2 separate regions of the Homo sapiens genome follow, and region 2 is linked to region 1. The links come from fine-mapping of genetic effects on gene expression. A gene starts in region 1. The other region holds a variant in brackets. All regions are shown on one strand. Distances are from middle to middle. Region 1 holds the start of APBB3 (amyloid beta precursor protein binding family B member 3). Region 2 has its middle 32 kb from the start of CD14.

Evidence for each region. PIP is the estimated chance that this variant, and not a neighbour inherited with it, causes the effect. A credible set is the group of variants that fine-mapping cannot tell apart.
Region 2: its variant is the best candidate, but not a certain one, in a credible set for the expression of APBB3 in whole blood (TOPMed, PIP 0.66).

The regions. Positions count from the first base shown.
Region 1 is chr5:140,561,574-140,566,896 of GRCh38, forward strand. It overlaps APBB3 (amyloid beta precursor protein binding family B member 3), which reads right to left and starts at 3,025. Exons shown (of 13, transcript NM_133173.3): 1 at 2,624-3,025; 2 at 2,179-2,342; 3 at 2,021-2,097; 4 at 1,090-1,150; 5 at 780-926; 6 at 527-654; 7 at 271-276; 8 at 14-128. The coding sequence starts at 2,672. It overlaps SLC35A4 (solute carrier family 35 member A4), which reads left to right and starts at 3,255. Exons shown (of 3, transcript NM_080670.4): 1 at 3,255-3,285; 2 at 4,300-4,398; 3 at 4,992-5,323. LOC131768270 (SLC35A4 upstream open reading frame protein) reads left to right here and starts at 3,255. Exons shown (of 3, transcript NM_001394034.2): 1 at 3,255-3,285; 2 at 4,300-4,398; 3 at 4,992-5,323. The coding sequence starts at 3,271. The coding sequence ends at 5,189. MIR6831 (microRNA 6831) reads right to left here and starts at 2,178; the gene lies at 2,098-2,178. RefSeq lists enhancers at 2,183-2,242, 2,851-3,457, 3,213-3,332 and a silencer at 2,713-2,892.
Region 2 is chr5:140,598,629-140,604,003 of GRCh38, forward strand. It overlaps a transcript of TMCO6 not described here. Among named protein-coding and RNA genes, the nearest start is that of CD14, 32 kb to the right of the region's middle. The variant C/G (reference allele first, on the strand shown) is at 2,611.

The DNA of each region.
Region 1 (5,323 bases):
CCCTGACACTTACCTGGGCACAAAGCCCATGTAGGGCACTGGCAATGGCCTTGGCAGGGACATCACAGCAAAACACATGGCACTTGAGCATACAGCTATCTTTGTCACTTGCCACAAAAGCGAAGTCCCTAGCAGGGGCAGAGATGGGGCTGGGGTAGAAGCTGGTTAGAGGCAGGAGCCTGCAGGAGGCTGGAAAGTCAGGCTAGGGATATAGCAGGGATGGAGTAGGGACATCAGGGATGGGGCTCAGGATACCTGGTTTTCACTCACCTGTCACTGTTCCGGAAGCATGTGGGAGCACAGAAGGGAATCAGCCCAGCCTCTCGGACTCTCCCCAAACTGTCCCTGCTGAGCTGGGCCCACCCTCCCCAACCAGGGCTGGACCAGGCAGGGGAAGCAGTCCTGGGTCCACATCAGAGGATCTGTGTCCAGGGGTTCAAGTACTGGGGATCAGCATCAGTGGGGATCACAGCCTGCAGCCGGGAGGGAGAAGTAGCTCTTGCTTGGGGGATGTAGGCATCCTCACCGGCCCTTGGAGCTCCCCACGCCCCACACACGGATGTGCACCAGAGGCTGGCAGTGGATCAGACTGTGGTCCAGGGGATTCACTAGGCTCATGGCATCCTTCTTCAGGATCATCAGCATGTTCTGGCCCTGCCAAGGACAGAGGTCAGCCCAGAGCTCAGATAAAGGTCATTGCCATGAGAAATAGGAAATTCAGGGACAGCTACCTCTGCTGGGCCCTGGGCCCAAACCATTAAAGGGCCCAGCCAACTCACCTCACCCCAGGCACCATCTGGAGGCTGGCTCCGGCTGCGGGTCTGGGCCAGCTGCTGGATACAGTTATTGACTGCAATACTGCTCTTCCCCGGTGCCAGGTCCTCTTCAGGTACCTCTACCCAGCCCAGAGAGCGGACTGCAAAGCACTGACAGGTTGGGGGAAGGGACAGGAATTAATAAGGATGGAGTAGGGTGGCAGGTGCCACAATACATACTCCCTGTCTTCACCCTTGATCACCTCTGTTCAGTCCAATCCCACCCTTGTCTTTCCCTTGGGACCTCCCAATGCCCTCAGGCCCAAGTCACTACCTTAGCCCCTGGCTCCATGCTCTGGATGTAGGATTCCCCACCATACCAGGACAGAGAGTTACTGAAACAGAGCAGAGCTGTTAAGAGGACCACATTTCCTACAGTAGGGACACTGGTGAGGCCTAGACAACTTGATAAGCACAGGATGAGGGGCAAGACCCAGAATATAGCACCAGAAATATAAAACCAGAGCAGGGTAGAGCCCAGGACATATTAACGTAACATAAAGTGTGACTCAGAATTTGAGGGAAAATTCAGGACATAGGACCCAGACACAGGACATAGAATAAAAGTCACAAGGCTAGGTGCAGTGGTGGCTCACGCCTGTAATCCCAACACTTTGGGAGGCTGAGACGGGTGGATCATGAGGTCAGGATATCGAGACCATCCTGGCCAACATGGTGAAACCCCATATCTACTAAAAATACAAACATTAGCTGGGCATGGTGGCATGTGCCTGTAGTTTCAGCTACTCAGGAGGCTGAGGCAGGAGAATGACTTGAACCTGGGAGGCGGAGGTTGCAGTGAGCCAAGATCGTGCCACTGCACTCCAGCCTGGATGACAGAGTGAGACTCCATCTCAAAAAATAAAAAATAAAAGTCACAAAATAGAACAGGGTCCAATATGTGGACCAGAACCCCAAAGTGGGACAAGAGACCCTAGAACAGAGGACTTAATGGCCAAGGTCTAGAACATGATAGGTTAGGACCAAGAATATGAAAAACATGTAGCTACAAACAAGAGCTTAGAACAAGGGATAAAACTCAAAATACTGACAGTTAAGAACCTGGGACAGAGCCAAGAACGTAACAGAACCCAAAACATGTGACAGAATCCAGAACCTGGGCTGGAAAGCAGACCATGGGTCCAGCTGCATTTTTGAACACCATGGAACCCCAAGCCTTTCATTTTGCCTGGGCCACCCGTTACCTCCGGTCCAGTGAACTCTCCAGGCTGGAGAAGGATCTCCCTTTGGGGGGCCGCAGTCCCCAGATCCCCTCCGTTCCCTGTAGAGTGGGAGTTAGTCAGTTTAACAGCAGACCTAGGTCCACACATGGGCTCAGACCTCCTCCTCACACTCTACCTACCGTGCCTGGGTCCTCTGCATCTCCTAGTTCCCAGGTTGGGCGCTGCCACTGGGTGCTACCGCTGGGTACATGCCAGTAGTAAGTACCTGCAGCATCGTGGATCTTCCTCCAGCCAGGAGGCAGGCCAGCCTCCACCTCCAGACTGTGGTCCCCCCACAAGTCATCTACAGGAACACCGGATTAGAGAGGAGGGAGCATATGATTTGTGAGTTCAGAATAACATGCTGTCATAATCCCCTCTCCATCCCCAAAATGGGTCAGTTCTTAGGCTGAAGATCCAGGCTCCTCAATCTTGAAGACATCACATGTAAAGACCGGGTTCATTCGCCCCCTGGTCCCTACACAGAGAGGTATCCCCCACCGTCTTTGAGCCCCAGAGTAGCCTTTCGGATTCCCTCGTCCTCCCTCAGCTCCTGGTCTTCCCACCGGGCCCCTCCGTGCACACCATCGCAGTTGACCAGAATGATGGCCAGCATGTAATCCTTGCCCAGCATAACCCCGGCTGCTCCCCGCCAGCCTCTGCCGGCCCGCACTCTCAGCCCAGCGCGACCTCTGGAGCTACTGCGCCTGCAAGCCCAGCCTCTCTGCGCCGCAGGCTGCGGGGCCAGCTGGCGCCGCACAAATACGGGGCGGGACACGGGGCGGGACACGGGCCGGTCCCGGGGGAGGGCCTGAGCCGCACAGCCCGCCCAGGGGTGGTGCGTGTAAACGGGCGTCTGGATCCCCGAATGGTTGCGTGTTTCCGTGTGTGGGTCCGGGGGAGGCCCACGAACGCCAGCGAAACCGCTGACACCACCGCCCAACTATGAACTCATCAGGCGCCTGAAGACCGACACGCCGAACATGCGCCGCGCGCACTCGCGCACGAGTGAGATCATCGCGCCCCGGTCGTGAGTGCGCTCACACGCAGCCTGAGACTCGACGGGAGGGGGTCACGTGGAAGTATCTGAGAGAGGCGTACTTGGCCACTAGGAAAGCACCTCCCCCTTTCCAAAAATGCTCCGGAAGTGCCTTCGCCCTCCGTAAAGATGGCCGGGGCAGTCGGCACGAGGGAGGCGGGGATGCGCCTGCGCAACAAGTTCGGCGGGGAAGATGGCGGATGACAAGGTGAGTGGCCGTGGGGGTGATCTGCAGCCGGGCGTGGTCTTCACTCTCCTTGACCTTTTTAGTTCCGGGGAGAAGCGACTCTGGAGCGGCTCAGGAGTGAGGATGTCCCTTGTTTCTTCTGCGGCTCCTGTCAACTGCCTCAACAGTGTGGAGTGGTGTGGGGAGAGCATTCGGCGAGGCGGGAGGAGCCGTGGATCCCCCAGATGTCCCCTCCTGGGAACCATCACGAACCCGTTACTAGCACAGACTCAAAAACATTCACCCTTAAACACTCCTCACTTTACCCCATTCCCTAGCTCCCGAAATTTTCTTCCCAGTGACACGATGTTTCCAATCACACGGACACTCACACCACCCTCATTCAAACACTCCTTTGCATACATTCTGAATTTCATACTTATATGCGATCAAAATCACTCAGTCCATTTACTTACACACTTGCCGACAGTCTTTTTTGTCATTCTCAGTCACATCCAGTCACTCACATTCAGTTTGGGATGTCCTTGGGAAGAAAGAGGTAAAGCCCATCCAGGAACCAAGACAATAAAATTGTCCAGGAAACTGCCTCGGTCCATTACTCACCATTGGTCTAGAAGCTCAGCATTACCCACACATTTACTAAATGTCAGGCACTAGAACATAGTAGCCAAGACAGACTGGTCACGACTTTCAAGGAGCTCATAATGGAGTCAGTAGTGGTTTCCTGATGGACCTAATTAAAGGTCCCTAGCTGTCCCTCCTGCCTTTCCTACATACTGCTTGCTATATAAAATTCTTGTCAAGGTTGATGTAAGTTACTGGTTCAGATCCCATCTGTCAGTCCCTTCCTGGCCCTCATTTGAATTCTGTGCTTTTCAATGCTTGTCTTTCTTTGCCACTGCCATCTCAGGAAGCTTTTATAGGAAAAGGTCTTTCTGGCTCACCCCATCCCCTCCCAATTCCCAGCTTCTGATGGAATTGAGCAAGGGGTGGGGCTTAGTCAGACTGCTGGAGCCAGCCTCTCGCTTGTCCTAGGATTCTCTGCCTAAGCTTAAGGACCTGGCATTTCTCAAGAACCAGCTGGAAAGCCTGCAGCGGCGTGTAGAAGACGAAGTCAACAGTGGAGTGGGCCAGGTAAGGACTGTCCCACCCCACCCCTGCCTTAGGCTTTATTGCCCAACATGCTCTTGAGAGTGTTAAATGGATGGTAGAGATTTCTTCAGCAAGTGATTATTGAGGGCCTATTCTCAGTCACCCTAAGGACAATTTTTCTGAATGGCACATGAACTAATATCTTAAGTAGTGGTTAAGTAGGTGAAGAGGGGAGGAAAGAACATTCCAGGCAGAACAGCATATGTAAAGGCCTTGTGGTAGGAAGTAGCATTATAAACATGAGGGGTGAAAGGAGGTCCATTTGGCTACAGTAGTTGGGGAGCATGCTAGGAAATGAGGCTGGAGAAACCGGCAGGGCTAGGGGCATCTCTGACCTTGTGTGGCGGTGGAGTTCTATGGTTGGAGCTTTCTGACCCCAGGGTTCTGAGATTGTGTGATCAGAACTGCTTGGTTCTTTTTCTGGCCCCAGAACCTTGGGAAAAATCTGGAGAAAATACCACGGTTGTCCAGGGTGAGGAGGAGCTGGTGGTGGAATGCTCTAATCCCAGCTTGAGTAGCCCCTGGACAGTCAGGAAGGAGCCTAGCTAAGTTTCCTTCTGCATTTTTCTCTGCAGGATGGCTCGCTGTTGTCCTCCCCGTTCCTCAAGGGATTCCTGGCTGGCTATGTGGTGGCCAAACTGAGGGCATCAGCAGTATTGGGCTTTGCTGTGGGCACCTGCACTGGCATCTATGCGGCTCAGGCATATGCTGTGCCCAACGTGGAGAAGACATTAAGGGACTATTTGCAGTTGCTACGCAAGGGGCCCGACTAGCTCTAGGTGCCATGGAAGAGGCAGGATGAGCAGCTCAGCCTTCAGGTGGAGACACTTTATCTGGATTCCCCAGCTGTCATCCATTTGCTATCTCCAACTTTCCTGCCACCTTCATCCTTGCCTCCCTTCCTGCA
Region 2 (5,375 bases), 37 kb after region 1:
AGTCCAAAGTAAGTGTCTATTCCTGGCCGGGTGCAGTGGCTTACGCCCGTAATCCCAGCACTTTGGGAGGCCAAGGCAGATGGATCACCTGAGGTCAAATTTTGAGACCAGCCTGGTCAACATGGTGAAACCCAGTCTCTATTAAAACTACAAAAGAATTAGTCAGGTGTGGTGGCAGGCGACTGTAATCCCAGCTACTCGGGAGGCTGAGACAGGAGAATCACTTGAACCCAGGAGGAGGAGGTAGCAGTGAGCGGAGATCACACCACTGCACTCCAGCCTGGGTGACAGACCAAGACTCCATCTCAAAAACAAAAAAACCAAAAAACCAAAGTAAGTGTCTATTCCTGTCAGACCCCATTTGTAGCCCCCAGGGCTGCCAGCATTTGTTCAATGTAATCTATCTACCAGCTATGTGTGAGGCCTTCCAACGGGGGAATGTGCCCCAGGGCCACCTGCATTCTCTGTCTCTCTTGCTGGCAGACAAAACAGTTCTTGTTGGCATTTTGTGCTTCAAAGGGTGCAAGAGGAATATGTCTAGATCTCTACATTGCCACAGTATTCTTAGGTCCACTCATTCCATGGACCCAGGTGGCCACCTCAAGTGAGCACACTGGGAAATTCACTCACTGGTGCCAATCACCTTCCAATCCAGGAAAGTGATTCTTCTATTGGGCATTGATATGTCCTACTTTAATCTATCCCTCAAATTTCCATAGTGATTTTCTTAGGGGATCCCTTTAAGAGGGCAGTTTTCTATTGCTCTTCAGCCTGACCATATGATCACGTCAGTATGCACCACCCATGAATCAGTAAAAACCCAAATGTAGTGGCAAACAGAATGCAATAGCCTATAAGGTAAGTTGTTTTTACCTTCTTAGCCTTCCAAACAAGATGCTGCACATTCACCTTGGAACTGCGATTATAAACCAAGAAGCTCTTTGCTGTTTATAGGACACTCTCCAGGTAGCAGTAGAATCTGACAGCTCCAGCCAGGTGCTGTGGCTCACGCCTATAATCCCAGCACTTTGGGAGGCCGAAGAGGGCGGATCACCTGAGGTCAGGAGTTTGAGACCAACCTGGTCAACATGGGGAAACCCCATCTCTACTAAAAATATAAAAATTAGCTGGGCATGGTGGTGCACACCTGTAATCCCAGCTAGTCGGGAGGCTGAGGCAGGAGAATCGCTGGAACCTGGGAGGCGGAGGTTACAGTGAGCAGTGAGCCAAGATCGCAACACTGCACTCCAGCCTGGGTGACAGAGCAAGGCTCCATCTCAAATAAAATATAAAATAAAATAAAATAAAATAAAATAAAATAAAATCTGGCAGCTCCTCAGGTGGTTCAAAAGTCAATTCTAGGGGAAAAAGTCTATCTGCTTGGAAATATGGTATCTCCTGGCATTCCCCCAGTGGTATGTTCCATCAGAAACAACTTCCATTTTGTTATGGAGCTCTTCCAGGCACTTCTCTCCCCATTGAATGGTTTCTCCAACATCATCCAAAATGTTATGGGTATTTTATGTTTAAGATTATTTTATATCTTTCAGTTATAGTGGAAGTTTTACTTAATGTCTGATAAGAAATAAGTAATTTCCCTGCAAATGGGAATTCTCTGGTCCAAAGTCCCAGCAGTTATTGCTGGGTGGCACTCACAGACTTTTGCCATAAGCTCCAGCCTATACTTCACACAGGGCTATTGTACAGAGAATTTTCCCTACTGGCACTTCAGCTTCTATTTTATACTGTTTGAAATTAACAATCAGTGTGACTTGGGCCATCTTATTTGTTCCCATTTTAGCACATCCAATTAATATTACCCATAGGGTGAATTTGTTTTGTTTTTTTTTTTTTTGAGACAGAGTCTTGCTCTGTCACTCAGGCTGGAGTACAGTGGCGCGATCTCGGCTCACTGCAACCTTCGCCTCCCGAGTTCAAGTGATTCTCCTGCCTCAGCCTCCTGAGTAGCAGGGTTACAGGCACCCGCCACTGTGCCCGGATAATTTTTGTATTTTTAGTAGAGACAGGGTTTCGTCATTTTGGCCAGCCTGGTCTCAAGCTCCTGACCTCATGATCCACCTGCCTCAGCCTCTCAAAAGTGCTGGGATTACAGGTGTGAACCAGTGGGCCTGGCCCCAAAGGGTGAATTTATGTGCCTTCTGTTTATAATACTAGGGAGGGGAAATGTTCCACGGTCAGATACAATATCCCCATACTACATTCAACGAAAAGAGATGCTATTCACACATACAAACTGTTCAAACATACGAATTTTAATCCAAACTTTTGTCACTTTAGTTTCATCAACCCTTGCATCCCTGACTGAAGCTTCCACTAGGACTTCACCAACAGATTTTCATTTTATAAATACTAGGTAGGGAAAGTGTGCCCCATTAAGACATAATATTCATTCTCTTAAAACATCCGTGTATAGGAGCTACAACCCCTTCACATAAATCCCATCTAAACACTCTATTTTTATCCCTTAATCCCATCCACCCTTGATTTCTATACACTTTTGTTCTAATTGTGGTCTTAGTGAGGGCTCACTAGCAGGGGACTACAGTGTATGTGGCTCCTATGTTAAGGAGTCCTAGAAATGTCCCTTTT[C/G]CACCCTGACAGTTTTTCTCACTGATGTGCATAAGGCCTTGGGTCTGCAATGGCTGTGGGGGTATGGGGTGGTGGTGGTAGTGAACCAAAGGAAGCTGACCCATTTGTCATCAATCCTTATACTGATTTGGTTATGGGACTATTGCCCCAGGTGATTCAAGGTAAGGTTTCTTGAATTCCTCCAAACAAGGTTGGATAAATCATATTTGTCCAGGGCCCTTCATGTTGGGACAACAGCAGGGGCTCCCTTTGGTCCACCTCAACCTCTCAGAGTACTGCTCTAAGACCGTTGTTTTGACCCCATTCACGTCAGCCTTATTCCATTTATTTTTTTGAGACAGAGTCTCGTTCTGTCACCCAGGCTGGGGTGCAGTGACACAATCTCAGAACTATGGTAATATAATGCTCCCTTCCTTATAAGGATGACGTAAAGCAGTGTTTCTCAAAGTGTATTCCCTGTGCCAGCAGTCTCAGCATCTCCTGATAATTGAATTAAAAGGCAGATTTCAGGCGTCACCATACCTGTTGAATCAGAAACTCTGGTTTCTGTGTTTTAAGACTTCTAGGAGATTCCAGTGGAGTCTAGACTTTGAGAACAACTGTTGATGAGATTAAGTGAGTTAATAATAAGCTTTAGGACAGTGCCTGGCACATACTAAGCAGTATATTCATGAATATTTTTAAGCGAATACAATAAAATATGGTCAACATATAGAAAGTTTAATTTAGGCAACAAGATGTTGCCCATGCTGTTCCCCCAAGAAATAAATCCTGCTTAATTCCTTGTCCAAAGGCATCAACATGGACTGCCAAACCCCTCATCATGTGGCTTCTGCCTTCCTTTCCTACTATTTCTATTCTCCATATACACTAGGTCTCCAACTTTTCTAGTACTCAGTATGAGAATTGCTTACTCACACCTCCAAGGCTTTGCCTATTCTGTTCCCTCTGCATGGTTCCTTCTCTTCCTTTTTAAAAAAGAACCTCTTTTCTCTCACTTCCTACACTTGCAATCTCCCGAATTCCTACATCTCCCTCAAAACCCAGCTCCAGTGTCACCTCTGTGATGACCTCACTGCTGTCCAGTCAGAGCCAGGCATTTGCTAGGCCTCAACACCGCCCTACACATCCCACTTATAGTACTTAGAGCAGTTTGTAACTGTTTACAGTTTCATTTCGTCTTTTTGAATTTCTTAATTGAGGTGAAATTCATGTTACATATAATTAGTCATTTTAAAGTGTGGCTGGGAGTGGTGGCTCACACCTGTAATCCCAGCACTTTTCAGAGGCTGAGGCACGTGGATCACTTGAGGTCAGGAGTTTGAGACCAGCCTAACCAACATAGCCAAACCCCATCTCTACAAAAATACAAAAAATTAGCCAGGCGTGGTGGCACACACCTATAATCCCAGCTACTTGGGAGGCTGAGGCAGGAGAATCGCTTGAACCTGGGAGGTGGAGGTTACGGTGAGCCAACATCATGCCACTGCACTCCAGCCTTGGCCATAGAGCAAAACTCTGTCTCTCTCACACACACACACAAACACACACACACAAAAAAAAAGGAAAGGAAAAAAGAAAAGAAAAATGGCCATGCGTGGTGGCTCACGCCTGTAATCCCAGCACTTTGGGAGGCCAAGGTGGGCGGATCACCTGAGGTCAGGAGTTTGAGACTAGCCTGGCCACATGGTGAAACCCCGTCTCTACTAATAATACAAAAATTAGCCAGGGTGAGCCGAGATAGTGCCGCTGCACTCCAGCCTGGGAAACAAGAGTGAAATTCTGTCTCAAAAAAAAAAAAGTGTATGATTCAGTGGTATTTAGTGTATTCGCACTGTTGTGCAACCATCACTTCTTTCTAGTTTCAAAACTTTTCCATCATGCCCAAAACACATGCCATACCCATTAAGTAATCACTTCCCATTCCTCTCTCTCCCCTCCCCAGGTGACCACTAAGCAGTTTTCTGTCTTTATGAATTTGCCTATTCTGGATATATTATATAAAAGAAGGCAAACAATAACAACATGTGACTTTCAGTGTTTGGCTTATTTTATTTTATTATTTTATTTTATTTTATTTTATTTTTGAAGCAGAGTTTCACTCCATTGCCCAGGCTGGAGTGCAGTGACGTGATCTTGGCTCACTGCAACCTGCACCTCCCAGGTTCAAGCGCTTTTCCTGCCTCAGCCTTCCAAGTAGCTGAGATTACAGGTGCTCGTCACCACACTCAGCTAATTTTTGTATTTTTAGTAGAAACAGGATTACACCATGTTGGCCAGGTTGGTCTCAAACTCCTGACCTCAGGTGATCTGCCCGCCTCGGCCTCCGAAAGTGCTGGGATCACAAGTGTGAGCCACTGTGCCTGGCCAGTGTCTGACTTCTTTTACTTAGCATTAGTTTAAAGTTCATCCAAGTTGTGGCATGTATCAATATTTGGGGTTTTTTTTTGCTGTATAATATTCCATTAAATGTTCATATCACAATTTATTTATCCATCATCTGTTGATGAGCATTTGGGTTATTTTCACCATTCGGTTATTATGAATACTGCTGCTATAAACATTTGTGTGCAAGTTTCTGTGTAGATATATGTTTTCATTTCTCTTGAGTATATACTAAGGAGTAGAATTGATGGGTCATATGGTAATTATATGTTTAACTTTTTGAGGAACTGCTAGCTGTTTCCAGAGTAGCTGCACCATTTTACTTTCCCAATAGCAAGGTATGAGAGTTCCTGTTTTTCCACATCCTCACCAACACTTGT